5 separate regions of the Homo sapiens genome follow, and regions 1, 2, 4 and 5 are each reported to be linked to region 3. Evidence: microRNA targets listed by miRTarBase, many of them from high-throughput screens and not tested one by one. Region 3 holds a microRNA gene; each other region holds the end of a gene's coding sequence.

What was found. Region 3 holds the annotated microRNA hsa-miR-4505 (AGGCUGGGCUGGGACGGA, at 2,497-2,514, opposite strand). A microRNA usually pairs through its seed, bases 2 to 8, with sites in the 3' UTR of a target mRNA and lowers its output. Matches are read on the target gene's strand: a 7mer-m8 pairs with bases 2 to 8, a 7mer-A1 pairs with bases 2 to 7 and ends in A, and an 8mer does both.
Region 1: miRTarBase lists KLHDC8A as a target of hsa-miR-4505. Seed matches in the 3' UTR shown: 7mer-m8 at 1,991-1,997.
Region 2: the mRNA of PSMD3 is a reported target of hsa-miR-4505. Seed matches in the 3' UTR shown: 7mer-A1 at 1,251-1,257 and 7mer-m8 at 1,282-1,288.
Region 4: the mRNA of ZNF562 is a reported target of hsa-miR-4505. Seed matches in the 3' UTR shown: 7mer-m8 at 1,358-1,364 and 8mer at 5,314-5,321.
Region 5: the mRNA of RNF126 is a reported target of hsa-miR-4505. Seed matches in the 3' UTR shown: 7mer-m8 at 4,106-4,112 and 7mer-m8 at 3,875-3,881.

Annotation. Positions count from the first base shown.
Region 1 is chr1:205,332,932-205,338,725 of GRCh38, reverse strand. KLHDC8A (kelch domain containing 8A) reads left to right here. Exons shown (of 6, transcript NM_018203.3): 5 at 130-231; 6 at 1,134-2,665. The coding sequence ends at 1,327. Among named protein-coding and RNA genes, the nearest start is that of NUAK2, 14 kb to the right of the region's middle.
Region 2 is chr17:39,996,470-40,002,263 of GRCh38, forward strand. It overlaps PSMD3 (proteasome 26S subunit, non-ATPase 3), which reads left to right. Exons shown (of 12, transcript NM_002809.4): 11 at 861-911; 12 at 1,035-1,490. The coding sequence ends at 1,112. Among named protein-coding and RNA genes, the nearest start is that of PSMD3-AS1, 15 kb to the right of the region's middle.
Region 3 is chr14:73,755,469-73,761,262 of GRCh38, reverse strand. MIR4505 (microRNA 4505) reads right to left here and starts at 2,516; the gene lies at 2,444-2,516. It overlaps MIDEAS (mitotic deacetylase associated SANT domain protein), which reads left to right and starts at 960. Exons shown (of 13, transcript NM_001367710.1): 1 at 960-1,500. RefSeq lists enhancers at 553-882, 2,943-2,992, 4,684-4,763 and silencers at 1,303-1,542, 1,673-1,822, 2,183-2,292, 4,603-4,897.
Region 4 is chr19:9,648,034-9,653,827 of GRCh38, reverse strand. It overlaps ZNF562 (zinc finger protein 562), which reads left to right. Exons shown (of 6, transcript NM_001130031.2): 6 at 1-5,794. The coding sequence ends at 879. Among named protein-coding and RNA genes, the nearest start is that of ZNF562, 24 kb to the left of the region's middle.
Region 5 is chr19:643,808-649,601 of GRCh38, forward strand. It overlaps RNF126 (ring finger protein 126), which reads right to left. Exons shown (of 9, transcript NM_194460.3): 7 at 5,075-5,168; 8 at 4,565-4,680; 9 at 3,719-4,470. The coding sequence ends at 4,321. It overlaps FGF22 (fibroblast growth factor 22), which reads left to right. Exons shown (of 3, transcript NM_020637.2): 3 at 1-566. Among named protein-coding and RNA genes, the nearest start is that of FGF22, 6.8 kb to the left of the region's middle. RefSeq lists an enhancer at 338-1,278.

The DNA.
Region 1 (5,794 bases), not on the chromosome of region 3:
AAGCATAAAGGATAAATAGAGTGAAGACACTGCCCAGGGTGAAAGCTATTTGGGCCACAATCTGCATTTGGTGGGAGTGGTCTGTATCTTATTCTGTCTATATAACCCACCATTATCCATGGCCTATAGGGGGATGGCTGAAGATGGAACGATCGTTCTTCCTCAAGAAGCGGCGGGCAGATTTTGTGGCTGGCTCTCTGAGTGGACGGGTCATAGTGGCTGGGGGACTTGGTAAGGATGGCGCTTTCACGCTGGAATTTATTGTGGTTCTGGTGCTCAGTGGATCCTTGGCACTTTGCATATGCAGGAAAGGGTACTGACTCCCTGCAGACCACCTGCCTACCACTATACTCCAAAAAATTCGAAGCACTCCCTTTCTTCCAGCCTAGATATTACCTATCCACTGTGGGCCCCAGGTGTGGCCTTTCTGTCCTCCTACACAGGGAAACTGTGACGCAGAGAGAATAAGGGACACCCGTAGCCGTGCAGCACAGGCTTACTGAGCACAGATCCCTAAACGGGAATGACTGGAGACAAACTGTGGAGGGGATTAGCCTTGGTCCTCCTCTGACCAGTCTCTTATCCTGTTCCAGCCCAATCGTGGAACAGGAAAGCAATCTGATTAAATAAGTTCAACAGATGAATCTTGGGTTTGATGTATTAACTCTGCCAGAGATTACTAGTATTTTGAAGGAGGGACTCTAAAGCGAGAAGTTCCCCATCATCAAGGAAGAGAGATCCAGGCAGCAGGGCTTCCAGGTACCCCAAGTCTACTTAGTGTGGACAAACTCCCACTTTACTCAGGCATGAAGGAACCGTGTCAACTAGACCATGTCAGTAGCTTTTTTAGGAAAGGGCAGCAGTGAGGCAGTAGTGTGCTAGAAAGCTCTGGTAAAAAGCAATGGGTAGGGAAAGAAAGCTTACTCTTAAAGAGACAGGAAGACGGTAGGAGGGACAAAGTGGCTGCTTGACAAAAGCCACTGGCTTAGTAAAGGGAGTAATCCTGTAGCCAAGGAAGTTGACCTTGCTTGGCTTCTGCTTGTGGGTGCCGAAGGGAGGGAGGTGGGGTGACCGTGGGGCATGGATTGGTGGTTGGACTCCTTTGTAAGGTCTGATTCCCTTGACACTTTCAGGGAATCAACCCACTGTCCTGGAGACGGCGGAAGCATTCCACCCAGGGAAGAACAAATGGGAGATCCTCCCTGCCATGCCCACACCCCGCTGTGCCTGCTCCAGCATAGTCGTCAAGAACTGCCTCCTCGCCGTGGGAGGTGTCAACCAGGGTCTGAGTGACGCAGTGGAGGCCCTGTGTGTCTCTGACTCCTAGCTGTCTCTGGGCTCAGTACCTTTGCCCTGGACCATATCACTTCACTCTTAACATGAGGAATGATCTTGTCCAAGCAGTCGGGGCTACTTCCAAGAATGTCAGCTCCTGTTAGCAACCAGTGGAGTCTGGCCTTGGGGCTCTAAGTTGACCTCTCTATAGCTCCAAATCCTACCAATCTCAGAAAACTGTAAGAGGCACAGATGACTCCACCAGCTGCAGAGCTGACTCTGAAGAGAGTCTTCACTTACTGCACAGGCAAAGAAAGGCACAGGAATATTTCCTACCTCTCCCTCCTGTGAGTCCCACCTCCCCCCACCCCCATCTCCAGGAGGCAGGTAGAGCAGTTCTGACCGAGAGGATAGACTGCTGTTGCTGTCTTTCCCCAGCTCTGAACTAGTTTTAAGGTAGCTTAGGATGAAAAATGGAGAATGATTGGGGGTTCCAAACCACTTTCTTCTCCCTTGGCTTATATCTCTTCACCATTTGGTGGTCAACTGTGGGCCTACCCTGGACCTCATCTACTCAGCGAGAATTGGACATGAAGCTAGAGGCAGCTGCCTTGGAAGGGAAGTCAGGCTCACTTGGACAGCCCAGGCCATGGCAGGAAGAATCCCTTCCTCTTGGGGTCCTTGATGGGCATGTGTGATGGGGAAGGAGCAGTCTCCCAGCCCTGGGTCTGCTCCCCACATCTCTCCTAATTCCACTTCACCTTTTGCCACCCCCTCCCCACCAGAGGCCTAGCCCTTTTGTCACCGAAGGCCCCCAGAGTGTTTCTGTGTGAAACCCTCTCATTTACACTGTGGCATCAAAATCCACAAAAGATGGATTAATTGCACTCTGGTTAATAGCAGCAGCACAATGATTAAAATCTATATTCCTATCTTCTCTAGCACCCTGGTGTGGGGATGGGGCGGAAGGGTGTCTTGAGGGGCAGGGAGGACCCCATAAAACAATCCCTCCTGCATTCTCAGGCTAAATAGGGCCCCCAGTGACTACCTGTTCTTGGCTGTCCCCTCTGAAGAGCTCTGCCTTCTCACAGCCACCACCAGTTGCCCCACTCCCAGGAAAACAGCACATGTTCTTCTTCTCCTGCCTTGAGACTGCGTGTTAGTCTTCCATTCATAACTCATCAGCAGCTCAGTCCTTCTTATGTCTAGTCTCAGTTCATTCAGCCAAAGCTCATTTTTGTCCTATCCAAAGTAGAAAGGGTTCTTTTAGAAAACTTGAAGAATGTGCCTCCTCTTAGCATCTGTTTCTGACTCCCAGTTATTTTTAAAATAAATGATGAATAAAATGCCTGCCCTGAAGGGTTCTGGAGGAGTCAGGTATCACTCATCAGGTGATAGTGTAATTCTTTCTCCAGGAGGCAGGAATGGAGGAGGATCACCTATCTGGATCTGAGGGGTCCAGGGAGCCTCCTGGAGGGAGGGAGTGTGACACCTTCAGCGGGATCTTCAAGGACAAGTGGAACCTGGGTCTTTACAGGATACGGATTTTTTTCCCCTCCCTTTCTCTGGGTACTTGGACTTTTTCCTTACTTGGGTCCAAGAAGGGCACTGCCACCTGCTGGCCCAGCATTTCCCTTCCCCCTCCCAGGGCTGGGAGGCCTCCCGTAGCCGCTGCTGCCCCCTAGTGAGGAGACTGCAGAGAGGCCTCCCCTGCTGCTTCTGGATCCCTATATTTGAGTTCAGCCCCTGAAGTAACAGATAGAAACAGGAGCTGGAGGAGCTGCAGATACTATAAGGGATGATGGAACTGTGCATTAGGGGATGCTCTTCCAAAGGCATCCTGTCTCCTCAATCCCCTACCCAAGAAAGGTGTTTAGCAACTGGAGTGCCTCCACCCCTTGCAAGAGAAACCCAAGCCTTATGGGAGGGGGCATTTCCAAGCACACAAAGTGGTCCCATATGCATGGATAGGGCTGAGCTTTTTTTTTTTTGAGACAGGGTCTTGCTCTGTTGCCCAGGCTGGAGTGCAGTGGTGCGATCAGGGTTCACTGCACTCTCCGCCTGGGCTCAAGCAATCCTCCCACCCCAGCCTCCCAAGTAACTGGCCCTAGACTCAAGCAATCCTCCTGCCTCGGACTCCCAAAGTGCTAGATTACAAGCCTCAGCCACCATTCCCAGACAATGAGCCATTTTTGAATGGTCAGACGGAACCTTGGGAGTACAGAGAGCTCTAAAAGGTTGAATTAGCTGCTGGACCCTGTGAGGGCAACTCCGGGCTGGAGCTGGTATCTGCTGAGAACTCACCCCTTGGAAGTCCATTCTGGAAAGACTTTAGGGGTGCCTCACTGAGGAATGAGGGAAATACTGAATGTCTGTTAAGCCATGTGGTCCTGTACCTCATGGTGCTGCAGAGGCAGCACAGGATCTGGGATAAGATGGCCTGGCCCAGGTCTCGCTCCCCAACCCCCATAGGCTTTCCCGTCCCCTTTCCACTGTGGGAAGGCTCCTCACCTTTCCTGTCTTCATTTCCCAACCTACACAACAGCAATCATAATGCTGTCTCACAGGTGGTAAGGTACTTCTTTCAACCCTCAGATCAACTCCATGAGGTAGGTAGTATCCTCCCATCTTGCAGATGAGAAAACTGGGGCTCCAGGGTCACAAACTCGTAAGTGACTGAACCAGGTCTGATCCCAAAACTTGTGACCACAGCACTGCATTGCCTCACGTGAAATAGCACCAGGAAAGGAAAGAAAATCAACTGCGCTATACTATGTAGGAAGTTCAAAATGTCTCAAAATCTAGAAGGATTGAGATTGTTTCCTAAGGAATGAGTGTGAGTATTCGCAAGGAATGGGTGAGAAGGGTTTCCTCATGTGAAATGGGCATAGATTATTCCTAAATGTATACTCCCCCGAAAATTCCCTTCTAACTTTTTCATTCCATTATTTAACATTTAACACCTATTCTGTGCCTGGCATGGTGCTAGATTCCTGCCCTATAGCAGTTACATCTTGGGAGGAAGACAGGGGACCATGGCTGCCGTTACTGTTTGATCAGTGTCAGCCTTTGCTAGTGCAACTCACAGGCACCCCACTCAGGGTGGTTGCAGAGAGCTGAGATGAAGAGTTCAGTGCAGGTTTCCAGGAAATAAATCTCAAACTGCACTTTGAAAGAAGAGGGAAGCCAGGTGCGGGGGCTCATGCCTGTAATCCCAGCACTTTGGGAGGCCGAGGCGGGCGGATCACCTGAGGTCGGGAGTTCGAGACCAGCCTGACCAACATGGAGAAATCCTGTCTCTACTAAAAATGCAAAATTAGCCAGGCATGGTGGTGCATGCCTGTAATCTCAGCTACTCGGGAGGCTGAGGCAGGAGAATCACTTAAACCCGGGAGGTGGAGATTGCAGTGAGCTGAGATTGTGCCATTGCACTCCAGCCTGGGCAACAAGAGAGAAACTCTGTCTCAAAAAAAAAAAAAAAAGAAGAAGAAAGAAAGAGAAAAAAGAAAGAAGAGGGAGACCAGCCCGGCAGAGGAGGATGATCACAGGCTTTGCAGCAAGAAAGATGGGTTCAAATCACGATTGTCATGTACTAATTGATCTTGGGTACATTACTTAACCTCTCTGAGTCCCAGTTTTCTTATTTGTAAAATGTGCAAAATAAGGCCTCACTTATGAGGCTAAGAGCTACCTGCTATATGTAAAGTGATGTATGTGTGTTCAGTGAGTAGCTGCATTATTATTTCATTGTTGTTGAAGGAGAGGTAGAGGTGTTCTCAAGCCCACTGAGGGAAAGGGTTTGGCTTATTTGGGGGAAAACATGTAGTGGAGAATGTAGGGGGAGGATGTGGGAAGATGGGCCTCGAAATGCAGGCAGGCAGACCAAGAAAGGCCTTACTATATGTCTTGTTGAGTCTGGAGTTTATGCATGTGGGAAGTTAGGATAAATTAAGGGTTTTAAGGGTAAGAGCAGTGTGACCAGAATTGTACCTCTGTAGGGATGTAGACATGTACATCCCTAGCATGGGATATTCTGAGTTCTTTTTCTAAGGAATAGAAAGTAAGTGAAATCACTAAGACATCATCTAAGATCAGAAGGAACAGCCGAGCATGGTGGCTCATGCCTGTAATCCCAGCACTTTGGGAGGCTGAGGCAGGTGGATCACCTGAGGTCAGGAGTTCGAGACCAGCCTGGCCAACCTCGTCTGGTGAAACCTTGTCTCTAATAAAAATACAAAAAAAAATTAGCCGGGCATGGTAGCAGGCACCTGTAGTCCCAGCTACTCGGGAGGCTGAGGCAGGAGAATTGCTTGAACCTGGGAAGCAGAGGTTGCAGTGAGCTGAGATTGTGCCCCTGCACTCCAGCCTGGGTGACAAGAGTGAAACTCCATCTCAAAAAAAAAAAAAAATCAGAAGGAACCCCAGCTGGGGTTGGAATCCTGGGACAATGTGCAGACCAAGCTTTTTAGGCCTTCTCTTGCGGAAGGCTGGCCCATCTACTGGGCAATCAGAGAGGGCC
Region 2 (5,794 bases), not on the chromosome of region 3:
TGCAGCACAGGGGGCCCAGAATGGGGAGGGGACTTGGCCATAGTTCCATAGCCAGTTGCCCTCTCCTATTGCGTTTAAGGGATGATGTGGTCACCAGGGAGGACCAGGCAGGGATTCAGAGGGCGGGGTTCTACATTTGGTTCCAAATTTGAGGCATTTAACTTCTCAAAGCTCTGTTTCTCCATCTCTGAAGCTGATAGGGAGGTGTTACCTGTCTTGCTTGCTTCACAGGGTTGGTAAGATTAAAAGAAGTCCCTGTATTGAGGCACTTAGCGAAGTCTAAATTGTAAAAAAGATGGCGCTGGTATCTAGCTCCACAAAAGGGTGAGCCCTTATCCTCAGTTAAGCACTGAGTTTGGCGCTGTTACTATTTGCTTGCCATGTTTTTTTCTGGTCTCCTCCGAGGAAACTAGGATATTGCTGCCTTGCTTAAAATCTGGCTAAGCCCTACTCCACGTGACATGCAAGGCCCTTTGTGACCTGGTCCCTTAGGTCAAGCCTCCCCTCCCACTCCTGCCCCACCACCCAGCAGCCAGCCCACTGGGTGCAGGCCAGGCCCCTCCCACATGGAATCCTCCACCGGGAAGGCCTCTCCCCGTTGCCACATCCACTGTGTTCCTCCTTTTCCTCCTCCCTGCCCAGTCAAGAGAGTTGGTCGTTTATTCCTCTTTTTTCAGCATTTCCCACAGGGCACTGTAATAATTCCTTTGATGCCTAGCCCCCCACTAGACTAACTGGAGAGGGGCCCGCCGCTTCCTGCCTGGTGTCTAGCTCACAGAGGGGACGCAGGGAGTGCAGGTTGCGTGAGTGCCTCACCTGCTTCCTTCCCTCGCTCATCTCCTCTCTTTGCTGTGCCCCAGGCCATGAGGTTTCCTCCCAAATCGTACAACAAGGACTTGGAGTCTGCAGAGGTAAGCTCTCTGCTTTCTGGGTGAGACCGAAAGGTCAAACTTCCACACAGAAGGGGAGTCGGGCGAGTGTCTGGAAGGGCTGAGCTGCTCTGAAGCTTTGGCCTCACTTGCCTCTCTCCCCAGGAACGGCGTGAGCGAGAACAGCAGGACTTGGAGTTTGCCAAGGAGATGGCAGAAGATGATGATGACAGCTTCCCTTGAGCTGGGGGGCTGGGGAGGGGTAGGGGGAATGGGGACAGGCTCTTTCCCCCTTGGGGGTCCCCTGCCCAGGGCACTGTCCCCATTTTCCCACACACAGCTCATATGCTGCATTCGTGCAGGGGGTGGGGGTGCTGGGAGCCAGCCACCCTGACCTCCCCCAGGGCTCCTCCCCAGCCGGTGACTTACTGTACAGCAGGCAGGAGGGTGGGCAGGCAACCTCCCCGGGCAGGGTCCTGGCCAGCAGTGTGGGAGCAGGAGGGGAAGGATAGTTCTGTGTACTCCTTTAGGGAGTGGGGGACTAGAACTGGGATGTCTTGGCTTGTATGTTTTTTGAAGCTTCGATTATGATTTTTAAACAATAAAAAGTTCTCCACAGTGCTTTGTGCATCAGTTACTATACTTCACTGCAGTATTGGCAGGCTCAGATTTTGGGTTTTTTGGCCTTAGAGTACTAGCCCCAGGTGTGTAATCTGAGGGCGATGGGTCTGCAGATGGGGAGGTGCCCAGGGGAGGATGAAGGGACCCTGACCTGGGGTCGGGGGCCTAGGTTTACTCTCTTTTCGTACTTGTGTGGCTTTGGTAAGGTCTTGTTAGGAAAGGTGTACCATGTGTCCATCACCAGCTGCAGACCTTCATCTCCCAATACACCTCATGGTGCTTCACGGTTATTGCAGTTTTTACAAATTGAAGGTTTGGCCAGGCATGGTGGCTCATGCCTGTAATCCCAACACTTTGGGAGGCTAAGGTGGGCGGATCACTAAAGGTCAGGAGTTTGAGACCAGCCTGGCCAACATGGCAAAACCCCGTCTCTACTAAAAATAAAAAAATCAGCTGGGCATGGAGGCAGGCGCCTGTAATCCCAGCTACTTGGGAGGCTGAAGCAGGAGAATTGCTTGAACCCGGGAGGTGGAGCATGCAGTGAGCCAAGATCTCGCCACTGCACTCCAGCCTGGGCAACAGAGTGAGACTGTGTCTCAAAAGAAAAAGAAAAGGACAAATTGAAGGTTTCTGGCAACACTGCATCAAGCAAATCTGTCGGTGCCATTTTCCCAACAGCATGTGCTCACTTAGCGTCTCTGGGTCACATTTTGGTAAATCCTCTCGATATCTCAAACTTTTTCATTATATCTGTTATGGTGATGTGTGATCGGTGATCTTTGATGTTACTATTGTCATTGTTGGGGCACCACAAATTGCACCCATATAGGATGGTGAACTTAGCCGGGCACGGTGGCTCGCGCTTGTAATCCCAGCACTTTGGCAGGCCGAGGCAGGTGGATCACCTGAGGTCAGGAGTTCAGGACCAGCTTGGACAACATGGGGAAACCCCGTCTCTACTAAAAATACAAAAAACAGCCGGGTGTGGTGGCAGGCGCCTGTAATCCCAGCTACTTGGGAGACTGAGGCAGGAGAATTGCTTGAACCCAGGAGGCGGAGGTTCCAGTGAGCCAAGATCGTGCCATTGCACTCCAGCCTGGGTGACACAGTGAGACATTGTCAAAAAAAAAAAAAAGATGGTGAACTTAATAAATGTCGAGTGTGTTCTCACTGCTCACACTGCTCACTCCATTCCCTGTCTCTCTCCCTCTTCTTGAGTCTCTCCATGCCCTGAGACACAAAATAATATTGAAATTAGGCCTGTTAGTAACCCTACAATGGCCTCTTAAGTGTTCCAGTGAGAGAAAGAGTCATTGGCCAGGCCTGGTGACTCACGCCTGTTATCCCAGCACTTTGGGAGGCCAAGGCTGGTGGACCCCTTGAGCTCAGGAGTTGGAGATCAGCCTGGGCAACACAATGAAACCTTATCGCTACAAAAAATATAAAAATTAGCTGGGCATGTGGCACGCACCTGTAGTCCCAGCTACTAGGAAGCCTGAGGTGGAAGGAGCCCTTGAGCCTGGGAGGTGAAGGCAGAGGCTGCAGTGACCTGAGATCCTGCCACTGCACTCCCACCTGGGCGACAGTGAGACCCTGTCTCAAAACAAGAAAACAGAAAAAGGGAGAAAGAATCACACATCTCTCACTTTCAATCAAAAGGTCAAAATGATTATGCTTAGTGAGGAAGGCATGTTGAAAGCTGAGAGAGGCCAAAAGTCAGGTCTCCTGCACCAAACAGGTAGCCAAGTTGTGAAGGGGGAGTTCTTTAAGGAAATTAAAAGTGCTGCTCCAGGTTGGGCACGGTGGCTCACAACTGTAATCCCAGCACTTTGGGAGGCTGAGGCGGGCAGATCACAAGGTCAGGAGTTCGAGACCAGCCTGGCCAGCATGGTGAAACCCCGTCTCTACTACAAATACAAAAACTAGCCAGGCATGGCAGTGGGCGCCTGTAATCCCAGCTACTCGGGAGGCTGAGATAGGAGAATCCTTGAAACCGGAAGGCAGAGGTTGCAGTGAGCCGAGATCACACCACTGCACTTCAGCCTGGGTAACAAAAGCGAAACTCTGTCTCAAAAAAAATGTTTTAAAAAGAGTTCGAGACCAGCCTGGCCAACATGGCAAGACCCCATCTCTACTAAAAATACAAAAAATTAGCTGGGCGTGGTGGTGCATGCCTGTACTCCGAACTACTTAGGACGCTGAGGCAGGAGAATCGCTTGAAGTGGGGAGGCGGAGGTTACCATGAGTCAAGATCGCACCACTGCACTCCAACCTGGGTGACAGAGCGAAATTCTGTCTCAAAACAATAAAAAATAAAAATGATAAATTAAATTAAAAGTGCTGCTCTAGTGGACACACAAATGATATGAAAGCAGAATAGCATTATTGCTGATACGGAGAAAGTTTGAGTCTGGAAAGAAGATCAAATCAGCCACAACATTCCTTTAAGCCAAAGCCTAGTCCGGAGAAAGGCCCTCACTCTCTTCAATCCTTTGAAGGCAGAGAGAGGTGAGAAAGTTGCAGAAGAAAAGTCAGAAGCTAACAGAGGTTGTTTTGTGAGGTTGAAAGAAAGAAGCCGTCTCTGTAACATAAAAGTGCAAAGTGAAGCAGCAAGTGCTGATGGAGAAGCTGCAGTAAGTTATCCATCAGATCTAGCTGATCTCACTGACGAAGGTGGCTACACTCAAAAACAGACTTTCAATGTAGACAAACAGCCTTCTATTGGAAGAAGATGCCACCTGGGACTTTCATAGCTACAGAAGAGAAGTCAATCCCTGGCTTCAAAGCTTCGAAGGACAGGCTGACTCTCGTTAGGGCTAATGCAGCTGGCGACTTTAAGTTGAAGCCAATGCTCATTTACCATTCCGAAAATCCCAGGGCTCTTAAGAATGATGCTAAATCTATTCTGCCTGTGCTCTGTGGATGGAACAACAAAGCCTGGATGACAGCCCATCTGTTCCCAGCATGGTTTACCGAACATTTTAAGCCACTGTTGAGACCAACTCCTTCGTCGGCTCTGTCGGCCAGGCTGGAGTGCCGTGGCATGATCTCAGCTCACTGCAACCTCTGCTTCTAGGTTCAAGCGATTCTCCTGCCTCAGCCTCCTGAGTAGCTGGGATTACAGGCATGAGCCACCGCACTCAGCCAAAAAAAATATTTTTTAAAGTTATTACTGCTGATTGACGATGCACCTGATTACCCAAGGGCTCTGATGGAGGGATACCAGGGAAATAATATTGTTTTCATTCCTGCTAACACATCCATTCTGCAGCCCATGGATGAAGAAGTAATTTCAACTTTCAAGTCTTTTTTAAGAAATACATTTTGTAAGGCTAGAGCTGCCATAGTGATTCCGCTGATGGATCTGGGTAAACTGAAAACTTAGAAAGCATTCATCATTCTAGATGCCATTAAGAATATTCATGATTAGGGCCGGACGTGGTGGCTCATGCCTATAATCCCAGCACTTTGGGAGGCTGAGGCAGGTGGATAAACTGAGGTCAGGAGTTTGAGACCAAGCTGGCCAACATGGTGAAACTCCATCTCCACTAAAAATAAATAAATAAATAAATAAATAAATAAATAAATAAATAAATACAAAACTTAGTCAGGTATGGTGGCACGCACCTGTAGTCCCAGCTACTCGGGAGGCTGAGACATGAGAATCGCTTGAATCCGGGAGGCAGAGGTTGCAGTGAGCCGAGATCGTGCCAATGCACTTCAGCCTGGGTGACAGAGTGAGACTCTCTCAAAAAACAAAAAAAGAATATTCATGATTAGGCCGGGAGTGGTGGCTGACACCTATAATTCCAGCACTTTGGGAGGCTGAGGCAAGAAGATCGCTTGAGCCCAGGAGGCCAAGAGCAGCCTGAATAACAAAGTGAGAACCCATCTGTATTAAAAAAATTTAAAAATTAGGCCGAGTGCAGCGGCTCACACCTGTAACTCCAGCACTTTGGGAGGATGAAGCGGGTGGATCACTTGAGGACAGGAGTTCGAGACCAGCCTGACCAACATGGTGAAACCACATCTCTACTAAAAATACAAAATTAGCCGGGCATGGTGGCGCTTTCCTGTAACCCCAGCTATTTGGGAGGCTGAGGCAGGAGAATCGCTTGAACCCGGGAGGCGGAGGTTGCAGTGAGCCGAGATCATGCCATTGCACTCCAGCCTGGGTGACAAAAGCAAGGCTCCATCTCAAAAAATTAACATTAGCAGGAGTTTGAAAGAAGTTGATTACAACCTTCATGGGTGACTTTGAGGGGCTGAAGACACACTTCAGTGGAGGAAAAAACTGCAGATGT
Region 3 (5,794 bases):
CTTCTCCCTGAGAAAGTGAGGGATGCACCTGGTTCTCAGGTCTGGCCACAGTGTTTTGAAAAGTGGCTGCCAGGACACATGGTATTCTTCGGTGGTTTTTCTTTCAAAGGAAAATCTCCTTGTGACCCATCTCCTTGAAAAACAGCCACCGCCACCACCGCCGCCGCCACCACCACCACTGCACCACCACCAAAAAACTTGGAAGGAAGAATAGGACACACTCCCCTGAACTTTCCCCTGGCCCTAGAGCCCCATTGAATGTGGGGGCCAGAACCAACCTCTTGAGCTGCAAAAATGTTTTCCATCTTCCCACCAGTCAGGCAAGGAGGCATCAAGGCCTGGACCTGAGAATTGATCAGGGGGATATTTAGGGAAGACAGGGGAAAATGTGAGTATGGAGTGAAAAGCCGCTCAACTCTGGCCTGAGTTGCTAGATTTAAATCCAGGAGATTTTCCTCACCTAAGCGATGGAGATGGTGGGTCCTTTCTAGGGACTGAGGCCAGTTTCTCAATAACCTTTACACGCACCAGGACGCTTTTGAGCCAGAAAGTGAAACTCGGAGAGTCTGTTAATAAAATGCCATGGAGAGGATTGTGCATGATTTACCGTATCCAAAACCAGAGAGAGTTTCTTTGTGGAAGAAAGCGACTTGTGCCTTCCCCAGCATCACACACACACTTTCCTGGCAGGCTCAATGGGTTTCCAAACATTTCGTCACCGTCTCCTCCTGACCTTGGTGTGAAAGGAACTAGCAGCGTGGCCCGCCAGCAAAGCCATCGGGGGCGCCAGCCTGGGCGGGGGATGGGGACGGCGACCGACTCGTGAGTGGAGGTGAGGTCTGCTGGAAATCCCCAGCCCCGGCCGCCGCCTGAGGTTTAAGGACGCCTTCCCCGGCCTTATTTGGTCGCAGGAAGTGGGCGGCGCCGGGCCTGCTGGCTGAGGCCGCCCCGAGACAGTTGTGCTGATGAAGTGGTAGAGCTGGTTCCTGCTCGCCGCGGTGCCGCGCGCGCCGGCCGGCCGCTGGGCGCTCCGCGCTCCCAGCCTCGAGTTGTGCAATCCTTTGTAGCACGCCAGAGTCCTCCTCCTCCGCTGTTGCCTCTCGCCCTCTCTCTTTTTTTTTTTTTCAAGCTGTGAGCTCAACCGATGAGTCAGAGCCGTGCAATCCTGACACTGCATCGCAGGACTGGGGGTGACACGGAGGGAGGCAGAGCGCTCGCGAGGCGGACGGCACGGGTGCGGGGCGCGCCGAGGCTCCTGCATCGCAAGCGGGGGGTGACAGCCCGCGCGTCCCGCCCGGGCCCTGCCAGCAAACTTCTCAGCCTCGGGAGGCGCGGGCTGGCGGAAGCCCCGCGAGCGCCGCGGGGAGGCGACGGCGCCTGTTTGTTTTTAAAATCGGGAGTGCGTGCAGGCGGCTGGAGTCCCGGAGGCGACCGAAGGCGGCGACCCGCGGCGGAAGGGGGACAGCCGAGCCCGGAGCCCGGAGCCCGGGCAAGAGCTGGGTAAGTGGGGCTGCCTGGCCGGCGGCCGAGGCCTGCACGCGGCGGGGCCGGCGAGGGGACCCCAGGCGGCGCGCGAGCTGTGGCTGCTCGCACGGCGGGTTGCAGCTCTGCAGGCGCGGCCCGGAGAGGGGGCCGCGGGGGCCGCTGCGCTCGAACTTCTGCGGCCTGGGCGGCGGTGGAGCGGGCGCGTGTGGCCGTGCGGGGGCCGCCTGCAGCCCGCCGCCCCCTCCCCCGCGGTCCGCGCCCTCGGCCCGCAGCTGCGTGTGCAGCGCAGCCCCGCGGTGTTTGTGCAGCTACGCAGCTTGCGCGCGGCCCCCGCCCACCCGGGCGCGGCCCCGCCAGGAAAGCCCTCCCCACCCGGCGGCCCGCGGCGGCTCGGGAATCCGGCTGCTCCTCCTCCGCTGGAGAGAAACGTGGTGTCCGTGGGGACCGGCTGACGTGACGGAGCCCAGGCCCGGAAGGCGCGGCGAGGGGCTAGCCAGCTGAGGGAACTTGGCGCGGGAGCCCCTTCCCCTGCCAGCGTGCACGGGAAAGTGGGCCTGGACGCGGCGTCCACGCCAGGAGTTTGGGGGACAGAGGTGCAGGGGCGTTGGGGAACTGGGGCAAATGCAGTCAGCAGAGGCCTAGGCTGGAGCGCTTCGCGCGGGCGGGCGCACCTCAGACCTGTCATCCTCCCGCGCGCCCCCGCACGCCCGCGCCGCCGCAGCCCTCCCAGCCCGCGCGGTGCCTCGCGGGGAGCTGTGTTCCCTGGTGCCTGGCGGCAGCGCCGAAACCCGGGATTCGGCCGGGCCCTGCATATGGCCGGCTTGGTGGAGCTGGTCACGTCGCCTCCCAAGTCGCACATGCAGGACCATGTGTGTCAGGTTGCCCCCAAGGCCTCTGGGTAAAGGTCTAGGGGAGGAAGGGGAACTTCGTGTGCCCTGGGGCCTTCAGGCTTCAGCCCCAAGGCGGGCCGACATGGAGGAGGTACCTGCCACAGAAAGTGGAGGCCGGGTGTCCGTCCCAGCCCAGCCTCCAGCGAGAGCTGGTGAGAAGATGAAAGGGGAAGTTATATGCCCCATTTAAAACTTTGTTGGTCACAACTACGGTGGCTGCTTCCTGTTTCCACCATCCCACGTGGGACCTGTGTGCCAGCCTGTGGAGCCTCGCGCGGGGGGCGGTGGGATGGGGGAAGAGAGGCTGGCCACGGAGGCCCCGGTGGCCCGCGTATGCAGGGGATCCCTGTTGGCAGCTGCGGCTGGGGGAGGGAGGGGATGTCTGGCTTGCTCCAGCAGGGGGAGCCTGGCCAGGTGATCTGGGATCTTCTTGTTCCTGTAGCTTCAGGGTTGAGACTGAAGGCCTAGTGAAGGTGGACCGAGAAGCCAGTCCTCCCTAGGGGGCCTCAGCTGAGGGGAGAAACCACCTGTCTTGCTCTAGAGCCTCCCACCAAAGGTGTGGCACACGCCCCTTTTGGATCAGAGAAATGCACCCTTTCCTTGGGTGTTAAGTGGCTTCAGAACCCAGGGAAAAGGAGAAGCCTTCCCGGGTTGAGAATTCGTAGGTCTTCCTTTTCCAACTGCTCTGGACAGTGAATAATAGGAGCGTAAACATTCAATTACTGTGATAAACCATCTCGTTGCATGGCCCTGGTCCAGTCTCCACTCTAATTGGATTGGCCTCTGGCTGGTTACTCTGGTCCGTGTAGCTCCCGGGGGGACAAGGGGGTGAAGAACCTGGAGGATGCCCCCAGGTCATACAGCTTGCCAGCTTGCTCTGGAACAGCCTAGCCACTGCCAGTGTGGCCTCTCCAAGTGCCAGCAGAACCCCCACTCCCGTGACTCTGTCAGCTCCTCACCCCGCCCCAGGAAAGAGCGCCCTGGAGTGCCCATGGGGATGAGAATTTAATTTTTACATGTGGGATTTTAAAATAGCCCCAGTGTTTGACCCTGTGTGCTGCTGCTTTCAATAAGTGGAACACAAGAAAAGACAACATGCAGTTGTGGATTCAGCTGAGGGCCTCCTGTGTCTAGAGTCCCCAGAGAAAGGCTGCCCAGGGGTGCCAAGACCTCTGACAGAAGAGGGGAAGGGGAATGGGCCCAGTCCAGGAATCTTCAGGTTGAGAGCCCCTCTCTTGCATTTGGGTCTCCCAGAAGAAAACTTTGCTCATGCTGGGGTGGGGACAGCCACAAAGTGGCTGGGGGTTTCCAGCTTATCCTTCTAATCCTGTTTCAAATGCCACTTCTGAAGGCTGTAGCCATCTTCTGAACACTCATTTCCACCTTATGTAGTTATTTGTGTACATACTGCAGTGTGGTGGTCAAAAACAAAGACTCTGAGTTAGAGTTCCTATACAGTATCTCCTTCATAGAGTTGCTGTGAGGATTCTGTGAGTTAGTATACGTAAAATGCTTAAAGCACATTTCAGTATTTGGTAGCCTCTGCTTGAATGGGTCCCACAATGCTGCTTGGCATCTAGTAAGTGTTTAGTGTTTTTTTTTTTTTTTGGTTGTTAGAGATAGGGTCTTTCTCTGTCGCCCAGGCTGGAGTGCAGTAGTGCGATCTCAGGTCGCTGCAATCTCAGCCTCCTGGGCTCAAGCAATCTTCCCACCTCAGCCTCCCAAGTAGCTGGGACTACGGGTACACATCACCACACCTGGCTAATTTTTCTATTTTTGTAGATATGGGGTTTTGCCATGTTGCCCAGGCTGGTCTTGAACTCTTGGGCTCAAGAAATCCACCCACTTTGGCCTCCCAAAGTGCTGGGATTACAGTCTTGAACTACCTCACCTGGTCTTAGTGCATGTTAGTTGAACAAATTAGTGAAAGATCTCCATCAAAAAAAATGTGTACTTGTCATGTGTTGGGCCCAGTGAGTCCCTGCTCCTGGAACCTCCTCAGATTGCATCACTGGTTTCAAAAATGTCAGTCCACCGTGGGTGATTCTGGGGCTGGTGAACCCAGTTTCCTGGCACTGCCCTGTAGCTGGCCTTGTGGAGTGCATGTGTCGGTCATCCTGACCCTAAGGGGACCTCAGGGTGAAAGAGTTGTGGAGCCATCTCCCTAGGGATCTGCTAGCCTGGGCACTTCCTTTGGTCAGCCCAGATTGGCACCCTTCCTGTGTGTGTGCAGGCGTGCATGCATCAGTACAGAAGCAGCCTGGGGCTCCATTCTTCCCTGACTCACTGCAGGTGGCAGGAAGCAGAGCCAGTGGCCGCATTCTGTTGGAGGAATTGCTTCTTTCTGCACATGAGAACTCTTGACTCTGGGACTGAAAAATTGCATGCTGGGCCGGGGCTAGGGTGGAGTAGGCTGAAATCCCCAATTCTTACTAAGGGACCTGCATTTGCATTCGAAGCAACATTCAGGATACTGTGAGACTATGAGCTCATTTTATGAATCAGAAGCATTACAGCATAACTTTAATGTTGGAAACTGCAATTTGGAATCCAGATCACCCTCCCTCCACCTCAGCGCGCACGCGCGCGCGCACACACACACACACACACACACACACACTGACATGGGCTCTCGCAGTCACACACTTGGGAGCAATAATAGTTGGAGCATCAGTTCAGATTCTGGAGGCCTCCAGCAAAATTCATCCACACCGACTTCTGCTTCCACACTCAGAACGCCGTTCCTGGATGGTGTGTGGACAGTCACTTGGGCAGTGACTGAAGGAAGTCTGATGGGTGCGTGGGAATGAGGCCTGGGCAGACCTGAGTTCATACCCCAGCATCTCCTCTTGCTGTGTGGCTTTGGGCATTGCTTAACTTCTTGGGCCTCAGTTGCCTCACCTGTAAAATGTGGATGATACTAGTACTTCATAGGCTGTGAAGATTAGACAGGATTATGCATGCAGAGTGAATGACACATACTAGGTATTCAACAGATGGCAACTCTCATTTCACCAGTTCCCACTGGATCCAGTGTGTTTGCCTTTGACTCCTATCAAGGAAGAGAAAATGAAGGGTGTCCTGTTTATAGTAGGAAAGCAATCTACCAGGCCACTGAAGCTTGTATAAATGAAGTTTATTGTGCCCTGGGAACAACAGCTTGATCCACTCCACCCTAGACATGTGGCCCAGACCCAGTGTCTGTGTGCCTTTGAGAGGGACTGTGGCCCTGCAGCCGAGGGTTGAGGGCCCAGCTTCCCAGAGATCAGATTGTGCTCTCAGGAACCTACCCGCCCAGGCCCCAGGCTGAGCTGCTCACGTGGGTGGGCAGGAGGAAGGCTGCTTTCTCAGCCAAGGAAAAAAAGTCCCCTGTTTGCTTCACCTGAAGCCTCGCAGTGTGACCTCGCAGGAGGTTTGGG
Region 4 (5,794 bases), not on the chromosome of region 3:
AGTGAACAGTTTTGCCTTAAGACACACATGAGAGCTCAGAATGGAGGGAACACTTTTGAGGGTAATTGTTATGGAAAAGACAGCATCAGTGTGCACAAGGAAGCCTCTATTGGACAAGAACTTTCCAAATTTAATCCATGTGGAAAAGTCTTCACCTTAACTCCAGGCCTTGCTGTGCATCTTGAAATTCTCAATGGAAGACAACCCTACAAATGTAAGGAATGTGGAAAAGGCTTTAAGTATTTTGCAAGCCTTGATAATCACATGGGAATCCACATTGGAGAGAAACTCTGTGAATTTCAGGAATGTGAGAGAGCCATCACAACTTCCTCACACTTAAAGCAGTGTGTAGCAGTTCATACTGGAAAGAAATCCGAAAAGACTAAGAACTGTGGGAAATCCTTCACTAATTTTTCTCAACTTTCTGCACATGCAAAAACTCATAAAGGAGAGAAGTCCTTTGAATGTAAAGAATGTGGAAGATCCTTTAGAAATTCCTCATCCTTTAATGTTCACATTCAAATTCACACTGGAATAAAACCACACAAATGTACGGAATGTGGGAAAGCCTTCACTAGATCAACTCACCTTACTCAACATGTAAGAACTCACACTGGAATAAAACCCTATGAATGTAAGGAATGTGGCCAAGCCTTCACTCAGTACACGGGCCTTGCTATACACATACGAAATCACACTGGAGAGAAACCCTATCAGTGTAAGGAATGTGGGAAAGCCTTCAATAGATCTTCAACGCTTACTCAACATAGAAGAATTCACACAGGAGAGAAGCCTTATGAATGTGTTGAATGTGGGAAGACCTTCATTACTTCTTCCCATCGTAGTAAACATTTGAAAACTCACAGTGGAGAAAGGTAAATGCAAGATATGTGGGAAAGAATTTCTGTATTCCTCACCCCACCTGTGAACTCCTACCAGAGAGAAACCTTTTGTATGTAAAGAATTTGGGAAAGCATTTGCTCTTTCCTCATGCCTAAGTATGCATGAAAGAATTCACACTGGGGAGAAATACTATGAATGTAAGGATATGAGTGTTGTTACCATTTAGCCCATTGGTTGCCATCTTTAATTATTGGCAGTGCAAAGATCATCAGATTAGTCCTAAATGCCTTTTGGAGGTTGTAATGGCTCACAGATTGGCCTTAGATGCATCCCGAGGGTCTGAAATTAAACCTACAGGTTCTGAATACAACATCATGGTTACCTGAGTCTGGGCATCTGTGAAGAAGGGTCATGGATGGTGAGGTCAGTACTGCAGGCTGCCTCACCTTGGTGATTAGATTCCTAAGATCATAGCATTAACAAGTTCTGTACGAGATAAATCATGCAGATTGATCCCAGCCCCTGTTGGTTAGTGGCTGCCAGTGTGGCACATTCATGTCAAAATTTACCAGAAGCCAAGATGATGTAGGCCCCAGAGGTGGATTGTTAAAAAGATGCTCCTCCAAGGTTCTCTTCTGTTCCCATGGATCCTGCAGAGCATGTCAGGAGTGAAACCATCCATAACTGCCAGTGCCCTTTCACAGCTGATTATTTCTATGTCCCCTTCTTGTAAAATAAGAAGTGTGACAACCTTGACTGTTCTGTTCTGTCTTCTCTGTCCATTTTAGGTGGCACAATGTAAGTGGCAGTGTCTCTTATAGTATAATCCAGTCTCTCTTCTCACTTCTGTTAAGATGGCTGATATAGTCCATGAATCCCACTCATGATCTCTTTATCAAATGATTGTTCAGCCACACTTTGAGGATTCTCTTCAGTACAAGTTTTCTAATTTTTGCAGTATGGATAGGCTGAGAATTTTCCAAATCTCCAAGTTCTGGTTCCTTTTTCCTTAACAATTTCTTCTGCAATTCAGGTCTCCTTTTGCATTTTTGCCGAGACCAGCTGGGTCGTGGAGACCCTAACCCAGTGGCTCTAGAGGAATTAAGACAAAGACACAGAAATATAGTGCAGAGTGGGAATCGGGGCTCACAGCCTTCAGAGCTGAGCTTGAACAGAGTTTGACCCACATATTTATTGACAGTAAGCCTGTGATAAACATTATTCCTATAGATTGTAGATCAGCTATAAGTATTCCTTATGAGAAAGAAAGGGACAGGCTCTGGCTTGTTATCTGCAACAGGAATATGTCCTTAAGGCACAAATCACTCATGCTATTGTTTGTGGTTTAGGAATGCCTTGAGCAGTTTTCCAGTTTTCTGCCCTGGGTGGGCCAGGTGTTGCTTGCCCTCATTCTGGTAAACCAGCAGCCTCCAGCATGGGCGTCATAGCCATCACGAGCATGTCACAGTGCTGCAGAGATTTTGTTTATGGCCAGTTTCTCATTGCCTGTTTATGGCCAGATTTGGGGGGCCTGTTCCCAGCACATTTTCCTGTAAGCACTCAGGAATAATGAAGCTTCCTGTGTCCTTTAACACTTTAATTACAGATCTTAGTGATACATACCATTTTATCTGTCTCAAGCTCTACCTTCCGTAAAATGCTAGAATACAGTTCTGCCAAGTTCTTCACCACTTTATATCAAGGGTTGTCTTTTCTTCATTTCCCAATAGCATGTTCCTCATTCCCCAATGACACCTCACCAGAATAACCCTTACCAACCTTATTTCCAGCTTGCACATCAGAATTTTTCCAGCCTCTACTCATTTGTCAGTTTCAAAGCTGCTTCACATTTTTAGTTTTTTTGTTTGTTTTTAATTGCAGTACCTCACTTCTCAGTACCAATATCTGCCTTAGTCAGCTCAGACAACCATAAGAGAATACCGCAGACCAAATGGCTTAGAAATTAATTTAATTTTAAATCAATGAGGTTAAAAACACAGGATTTTTTTTTTTTTTTTTTTTTTTTTTTTGAGATGGAGTTTTGCTCTTGTTGCCCAGGCTGGAGTGCAATGGTATGATCTTGGCTCACCGCAACCTCCACCTCCTGAGTTCCAGTGATTCTCCTGCCTCACCCTCAGTAGCTGGGATTATTGGCATGCACCACAAACCTTAGCTAAGTTTGTATTTTTAGTAGAGACAGGGTTTCTCCATGTTGGTTAGGCTGATCTCCATGTTGGTCAGATCTGACCTTTGGTGATCCACCTGCCTTGGCCTCCCAAAGTGCTGGGATTACAGGCCTGAGCCACCGTATCTGGCCCAAAACACAAATTTATATTCTCACATATCTGGAGGCTGGAAGTCTGAGATCAGAGTGCCAGCATGGTCAACCTCTAGTGAGAGCTCTCTTCCTGGCATGTAAGTGCCCACTTCCTCATGTTTTCACACGATGGAGACCAACAAATAGGTCGGTCGGTCTCCCCCCTCCCCGCCCCCTTCTCTTTTCACATACAGTCACATTGAGGTTTGGAACTTCATATGAAATTTGGGGGGTCACTGTGTGTGTGTGTGTGTGTGTGTGTATGTGTATATATATATACATATATATACACATATGTATGTATACCTAACTCCTAAAGTGGAACAGTAAGAGTCATTATTTATAGATTATCTGATTCTCTATGTGGAAAGAGAAAAGAATCATATTAAGTACTTTGGACTGAACAATGACCCCCAAAATTCGTATGATGATGAAGCTCTCTCTAAATATTTTCTTGCTTTACTGGACTGATTTTAACCCGCTGCACAACACCAACTAAAAGTAGTAATACCAGCATACTTGTCTTTGCAGTTCTGGTGAGATATGCACTCTATTTTGTTGGTTTGGCTGTAGGCTTTTATTTCTTTTTTATTTTTTGAAGAGGTTATGTCCTGTCAGGGAACCAGCCCCGATATTCACATAGGTTCTTTTCTATTTTCCCTAAGTGTCAGCCAACTTGAGAAATAAAGGGACAGAGTACAAAAGAGAGAAATTTTAAAGCTGGGTGTCCGGGGCAGACATCACATGTCGGTAGGTTCCGTGATGCCCCACAAGCCGCAAAAACCAGCAAGTTTTTATTAGGGATTTTCAAAAGGGGAGGGAGTGTGCAAATAGGTGTGGGTCACAGACATCAAGTACTTTACAAGGTAATAGAATATCACAAGGCAAGTGGAGGCAGGGCGAGATCACAGGACCAAGGTGAAATTAAAATTGCTAATGAAGTTTTGGGCACCATTGTCATTGATAACATCTTATCAGGAGACGGTTTTGAGATCAACTGGTCTGACTAAAATTTATTAGGTGGGAATTTCCTCTTCCTAATAAGCCTGGGAGTGCTATGGGAGACTGGGGTCTATTTCACCCCTGCAGTCTCGACCATAAGAGATGGCTACACCCAGGGGGGCCAGTTCAGAGACCCACTCCCAGGTGTGCATTCTCTTTCTCAAGGATGTTCCTTGCTGAGAAAAAGAATTCAGTGATATTTCTCCCATTTGCTTGTGAAAGAAGAGAAATGTGGCTTTGTTCCACCTGGCTCACCGGCGGTCAGAATTTAAGGTTATCTCTCTTGTTTCCTAAACATTGCTGTTATCCTGTTCTTTTTTCAAGGTGCCCAGATTTCATATTGCTCAAACACACATGCTGTATAATTTGTGCAGTTAATGCAATTATTACAGGGTCCTGAGGTAATATACATCCTCCTCAGCTGACAGGATTGAGAGATTAAAGTAAAGACAGGCATAGGAAATCACAAGGGTATTGACTGGGGAAGTGATAAGTGTCCATGAAATCTTTACAATTTATGTTTAGAGATTGCAGTAAAGACAGGCATAAGAAATTATAAAAGTATTAATTTGGGGAACTAATAAATGTCCATGAAACCTTCACAATCCATGTTTTTCTGCCATGGCTTCAGCCAGTCCCCCCGTTTGGGGTCCCTGACTTCCTGCAACAATGTCCTGCAGGAAAAGTTTTTTCTTTATATCCAGTTTTTACATGATGAATTATTTCCCAATATTTCATAGTTTATGAGGCTGAATTCCTCTTGAATTTATTAAATGCTTCCTTCACATCCTCTGTGATGATCATGTTTATTTACTGATAAAACTCAATACCTAGAACTGCACCTAGCTCATGATGGTACCTAATAAATACTTCAATGAAATGATGTGGTGATGCATGCCTATAGTTTTAGCTACTTGGGAGGGTGGCCTGAGCCCAGGGGTTCTAGACCAGCTTAGGCAACATAGCAAGACCCCATCTCAAAAAAAAAAACAAAAACAAAACAAAAAAAAAACTTGAAGAAGTGAATGCATGGAAAGGCGCTTTTCTAAAACAAATGTGGTCAGGCTGGGTGTGGGGGCTTATGCCTGTAATCCCAGCAATTTGGGAGGTGGGGGTGGGCAGATCATTTGAGGTCAAGAGTTCGAGACCAGCCCAGCCAACATGGTGAAACCCCATCTCTACTAACAATACAAAAATTAGCTGGGTGTGGTGATGTGCACCTGTAATCCCAGCTACTTGGGAGGCTGAAGCAGGAGAATCACTTGAACCTGGGAGGTGGAGGTTGCATTGAGCCAAGATTGCACCACTGCACTCCATGCTGGGTGACAGGGTGCGACTCTGTCAAAAATAAATAAATTAAATTAAATAAATGTGGTATTTGTATTTATTGCTTTTCCAATGTTACATCAACCTTGTATTCCTGGATAAGCTCGACTGTGACATAATGGATCACTTAAAAATACTTCATGACCTTTACTAATATGTTATGGAGCTATGTTTGAATAACATTGTGATTTTTAAAAAATTGTCCCTTAATGATATTTGTATATAATGACTGTCATATACTGTAGTGGGGCATGTTCCTACTATTTCTAAATTCTTAATCTATAAGAGTCATCTAGGTTGGGAATA
Region 5 (5,794 bases), not on the chromosome of region 3:
CTCGAGGACCCAACAGGGCGCCTCTCGGGCTGAAGGACGCAGACGTCGAAAGGTCGAGGGGGACGTCCCAGGCAGGGCCCGGCAGAGGCAGGGGCTCGGGGTGGGGAGCACGTTGGGAGTGGGGGCAGGAGCGGAGGGGAGGGGAGGGGGCCGGGGAGACGGTGACAGACGCCGCAGAACACCAGCCTCGAAGCCGGTCCCGTCCCGGGAATCTGCAAATACAACGCCTTGCGAGGACAAAGGCACCTGCAGGTGGGACGGAGATGGAGGAGCATCCAGGGTGGGGGGTCCAGGGCCCCAGTGTCCTCACAGGGTCCTCACGACAGGAGGCGGGACAGTGAGAGCCAGAGAGAGATGGGGATGGGCCGCGCTGTGGCCGTGAAGGGGAGGAAGGGCCCTAAGCTGAGGGACGTGGGTGCCTCCAGATGCTGGGGAAGGCGGGAACGGTTCCGCACTGGAGCCCCCGGGAGGGACCGGCCTGCTCCTGCCTTGATATGAGCCCAGTGGGACCCAGTTTGGACTCTGGCCTCCAGAACCGCCAGAAAATAAACGTAGTAAGCCATCAACTTTGTGGTCTTTTGTTACAGCAGACGTCGGAAATATGCACACGGTGTCTGAAACTGTTCTCATGACAAAATAAGCCTCAGATCCCCCGGGGAAGGGCGGAGGCCAACGCCTCGGTGTTCCTCCGATCCCCCGGGAAGGGCGGAGGCCGACGCCTCGGTGTTCCTCGGATCCCCCGGGAAGGGCAGAGGCCGACGCCTCGGTGCTCCTCAGATCCCCCGGGAAGGGCAGAGGCTGAGGGCAGGAGCCGTGCTGGGTGCAGGGCAGGCCTGGGGGCTTCATGCCGCTGTCCTGCGGGACGCAGAGAGGGCTGGCCGTCGGTGTGGGGGCGCCCCCACCTGTGCCCAGCGCCCTCCTGACATCCTGACTCCGCTGGGACTTCTGCCTACAGCCCTGGGAGTCAAACTCCAGCCTCTCAGAGAAAAGGTCAGAGCCAAGAGCCCCACAGCCTGGAGCCAGGCAGTGACACCCTGGGCCTGTCTCCCCTTCTGTGTGTGGGGCGACAGCAGCATCGCCCTGGTGAAGTCCCCGGGGACGGCCAGGGCTCCATCCCCAGCCGCCGCCTTCCACATAAATACAGGAAGACTGGGCCGAGGCACTTGCTGGGAGGTGCTGAGCAGCCTGACACGGAAAACCCTTCTGGGAAGGGAGGGTCGTGCCCGGCCCGAGAGCTTCTGCTCACCCTGCAGACAGAAGCGAGCCCCACCCCAGGGGACACCAGGCGGCCTCTGGGGACATCTTTGGCTGGCATGGAGTGGGTGGAGGACAGGGCTGCACCCAGGATGTCCCCAGGTTGGCAGTGTGAGGGGAGATCGGCCCACGTTGGCCAGTCGGAGGGCGTCGCCACTTGAGTTGTCACTGGGAGCTGCACAGGTCACCACAGCTGAAATAAAACTTGCTGGCACCCCACGCAGGAACGTAACATGTGCCTCGAAGAAACGGGTCAGCAGGCCGGGCGCGGGGGCTCACGCCTGTCATCCCAGCACTTTGGGAGGCCGAGGCGGGTGGATCACGAGGTCAGGAGATCAAGGCCATCTTGGTCAACATGGTGAAACCCCGTGTCTACTAAAAATACAAAAAATTAGCCGGGCGTGGTGGCGGGCGCCTGTAATTCCAGCTACTTGAGAGGCTGAGGCGGGGAATCGCTTGAATCCGGGAGGCGGAGGTTGCAGTGAGCTGAGATCGCGCCACTGCACTCCAGCCTGGGCGACAGAGCGAGACTCCGTCTCAAAAAAAAAAAAAAAAAAGAAACAGGTCAGCAGTTGTTTCTTTGTTTCTAAAACAGAGCGTGGAATGGGCGTACAGCTCCGCACATCCCAGGGCAGTGAAATCCCGGTTCACACAGAGCCCTCAGCAGCTTATTCGCAAGCCCAAACCTGGGGACCCCCGTTGTCCTCAGGCAGTGAGGTGGGGGCCCCCCAACAGAGAGGAGCGGCCTGGGGGCACAGAACCAGCGGCTCCCCAGGAAATCGCCAGCAGTGAAAATAAGACAACCCCAAACTGTTGCAAACTGTGCTTCCGCTTACGAAGCACTCCTGAGCGGCAGGGCGGATGGGGAGAGGGCGGCTGCAGGCGCGAGGGGCCCGGGGACGCAGGGGTGCGGGCCTTACCAGGGCCCTGTCCTGTCGTGCAGCAGGCTCCTGGGGCAGGGAAGACACCAGGGGCGGCCACTTCTTACTGCTGTCTGACCTCGAGCAATGCGGCCTCACAGCCCCCACCAGGGTGCCGGTGTCCTCTGGGCCCAGCGCCCCCGAGGCTCATGCCTGGGTGGGGCGAACCAATCGGTCCTGCTCCTCTGGCCACTCCACGCGAGGGAAGTCCCAGCCTCACAGGCAGGCGCACACCCCGGCAGCATCTCTGACAAAGGCCCTCCAGTTCCGAGTCTCCAGGTCCCGCCGCTGCAAGCCTCACCTGCCCAGCCCTCCTCTCCAGCTCCAACTCCAACTCCCAAGAACCACCACGGACACACAGAACCCGAGCCTTGTCTCCCTCAACGCCTCCTGACTCAAAACTCCATCTTCCAACAGGAAAACGGCTCGGCCGGGGGACTGTGACCCGGAGCAGGCGGCCCAGCCTGTCGCGCAGACTCGGGGCCTAAAACACTTGTTCTCTCAGTCCGGAGATCAAGGACGATCCGAGGTAACCTCCCTACCTCGGTGTCCTCCATGCAACCTCGTCTTAGGGCACCGGGTACGTTACCTCGTGAGGAGCCGAGTCCGCGGGTCCTGGGGTTGAGATGTGGACGCCCTCAGGGCTGGCACTCTGCCCTGGCGGCCACAGTCATGGAAGTCCCAACGCTTCTCTCGGCTCCGCAACCCCAGAGGGCGGCCACGAGGAGGGCCCGCCACGCACGACCCCAGAGGGCGGCCACCAGGAGGGCCCGCCACGCGCGACCCCAGAGGGCGGCCACCAGGAGGGCCCGCCACGGCGTTGCGGCAGCAGCCCAGAAGGTGCCCTGCGCACGGTCCGGACAGGTGGGATCCGAGTTACCTGGCCAAGGGGGCTGACGCAGACACGTCGCGGGACACAGTGAAGAGTGTGGTGCAGAGCGGAGGGCGGGAGTCTTTGGAGAACAGGTAGGGGCGTGGGGCACGCGCCTCCCACGCGCAGGAGCCGTCTACCGTGGAGGGACACGGGTGGTCCTGCTGGAGGCTCCTCTCCGTTAGCTGTCTCCATCGTCTGATTCTTGGATCCCAGGATGGTGGGATCATCAGCAACTGAGATGAACCCACTGCCCCGGCCCCCTGAGCCCGCAGGTCCCCACGCCTTGCCAGCTGTGCCCGAGCTGGCTGCACCCCGGGCCAGGCATCCAGCAACCTTGAGCAGTGGGGTCCGGCTTTTCAGAAGGGGCCAGGAACCCGCGTGGCTGAGGTGTGACCGAAGCGTGGGGCAGAGGCGCTGGGCCCTGGCGCTTTAACGCTGGTGTTTCTGGTTTTAAATTTCACGACCCAGTGACACTGCCACCCTGCTACCTCGCCAGCAGCCCTCCTGGGCTTAACTTCGGGAGAGCAGTTTTGCTAGCCGGCCCTGGGTGCCAAGCCCTGCAGGAGGCGCAGACCCCTGGAGACAGGACCGGACTCTGCAGAGCCCGACCAGCCTCCCAGCTTGGCCTTTTCCTGACGCACGGGCGCAGAAGGAAAGCCACAGCACCGGCTTCTCTTTGTAAGTAGTGTATTTTAAATAGCTTTCAAGATACACATATTTTTTCCTTTAAAAAAGTCTGTTGGAGCAGTTTTGTTCTTGAATTTTGCTGGTCATCCTCATGGTCCCGAGCCCCCCTACTCCGGGTCGTGGAGGCGGCCGAGGGGGAGGCTGGGGGCCCACGTGGCCCGTCCTGGCGGCACCTGCAGCACTGGGGGAGCCGCTGAACCCCGTGCTTCAGCGCTGGGGGAGCCGCTGGGCCCCGTCTTCCGCCACAAACCATGCATGGCCGCCACGTGAGCTCAAACGTCCGTTTATTTCAAAGCAGTAATAATTTAAAATTATAAAAATCTTTCCACCGCTGAACGTTTAGAGGGTGAGGTTAGACAGAGGACGGGGAGGCTGGGGACGCCCCAGAGGGGACCATGTGGCCCACGCCTTCCCAAGCCAGGGGGCCGGTGGGCCGGGCCCGGGTCCTGCCCTGGAACAGGCGGGACCTGCAGCGCTGACCAGCCAAGCGTGGCGCCGCCGGGGCACCCAGTCTGTGGGTGCCGTGTGGCGCTGGCTGAGGGTGGGTGGGAAAGGCCCCGTGCTTTCCCGACGGCCGACGTGGGCTCACGAGTTGCTTGTGGCGTTCTCGTTGCTGGGCGAGCTGGAGGAGGACGATGACGACGAGGAGGAGAAGCTCACCCCAGTGAGGCCAGGGGGGTTCGTGGCCGTGTTCTGTCCCGTGAGGCTTTTTCGGCAGACGGGGCAGCTGTCGTGCTTTGTGGGGACAGAGGCAGGGACGGGAGAAGGGGCAGGTTAGAGGCGGGAGGGCCGCGGTCGGGGTGGGGGGGCGGGTGGGCGGGGCACTCACCTGCTCCAGCCAGGGCACGATGCAGCCGTCGTGGAACAGGTGGTTGCAGGGCAGCTGCCGCACACGCTCACCCAGCGCGTAGTCGTCCTTGCACACAGGGCACTCGAGCCCGGAGCCTGCGGGAGTGTGCAGCTGCGGTCACAGCGGGCGTGGGGGGCCTGCCGAGCCTTCAAGGGCAGGCTACTCCACAGCCTCAGCCGGAGGCCGCCCCTGAGCCCAGCGAGGGGAGAAAAGCCGTGTGTGTGTCCCCCGGGCTGCCAGAGGGGACCTGGACAGAACCCTCTCCTCCCAGCCCACCTTCAGGGAAATGCTCGAGGCCGGGTGCGGTGGCTCACGCCTGTCATCCCAGCACTTTGGGAGGCCGAGGCAGGAGGATCACCTGAGGTCAGGAGTTCGAGACCTGCCTGACCAACATGGTGAAACCCTGTCTCTACTGAAAATACAAGTATGAGCCAGGCGTGGCGGCGGGTGCCTGTAATTCCCACTACTCGGGAGGCTGAGCTCTCATACCTACGTGCTCCTCAGTGACGGGGACGGTGGGGAGGGCCTGGATTTTCTCTTTATCTGCCGGTGGGGGGCCTGTGTTTTCAAACTGATTGAGGAGCTGAAAGACAAGAGGCGAGAGTGCCGGGAGCTCCTCGGGGGCCCGGCCCGGGGCTCTGAAACGCGAGGCTGCAGGACCTGCAAAAGCACCGAGGCCGCGTTTGTCCTGGGCCCTGGGCCCCTTGGAGCCCGCCCGGGGTCGGAGATCACTGTGGAGCCCACGCGGCCCCCCCGCTCCTGGGTCCCCTGACGGTGGAATGGGGGAATGGGCGGAGGCCCGCGCTCCTGGGTCCCTGACAGCGGAATGGGGGGGGGGGCCGCGCTCCTGAGTGCCCTGACGGCGGAATGGGGGGGCCGTGCTCCGGCTGGTGGGCTACTGTGAGGGTCGGGTCCTGCCAGTGACAAAATGCTCCAAGGGCTCCTCAGCAAGGCTGAGACGGGTGGCACTTGGAAGCAGGTCAGGGCGCGACCTCTCGGGAAGAGGGACCGCGTGGCCTCCTGACCATGTGACTGTGGGCGAGTCCTCCCCGCGGTTTTGCTACAACGTTCCGCGTGAACACAGGAGAACCCCCAAAGTTGCCAAGACTCAGAAATGGCAGGAGGAAGGCCGGAGCTGCCCCCTGTGCCCGCCAGAGCGTGGAGGCTGTGCCCGCATCCCCTTTGACCTTTGTGGGGCTTCGTGGGTCC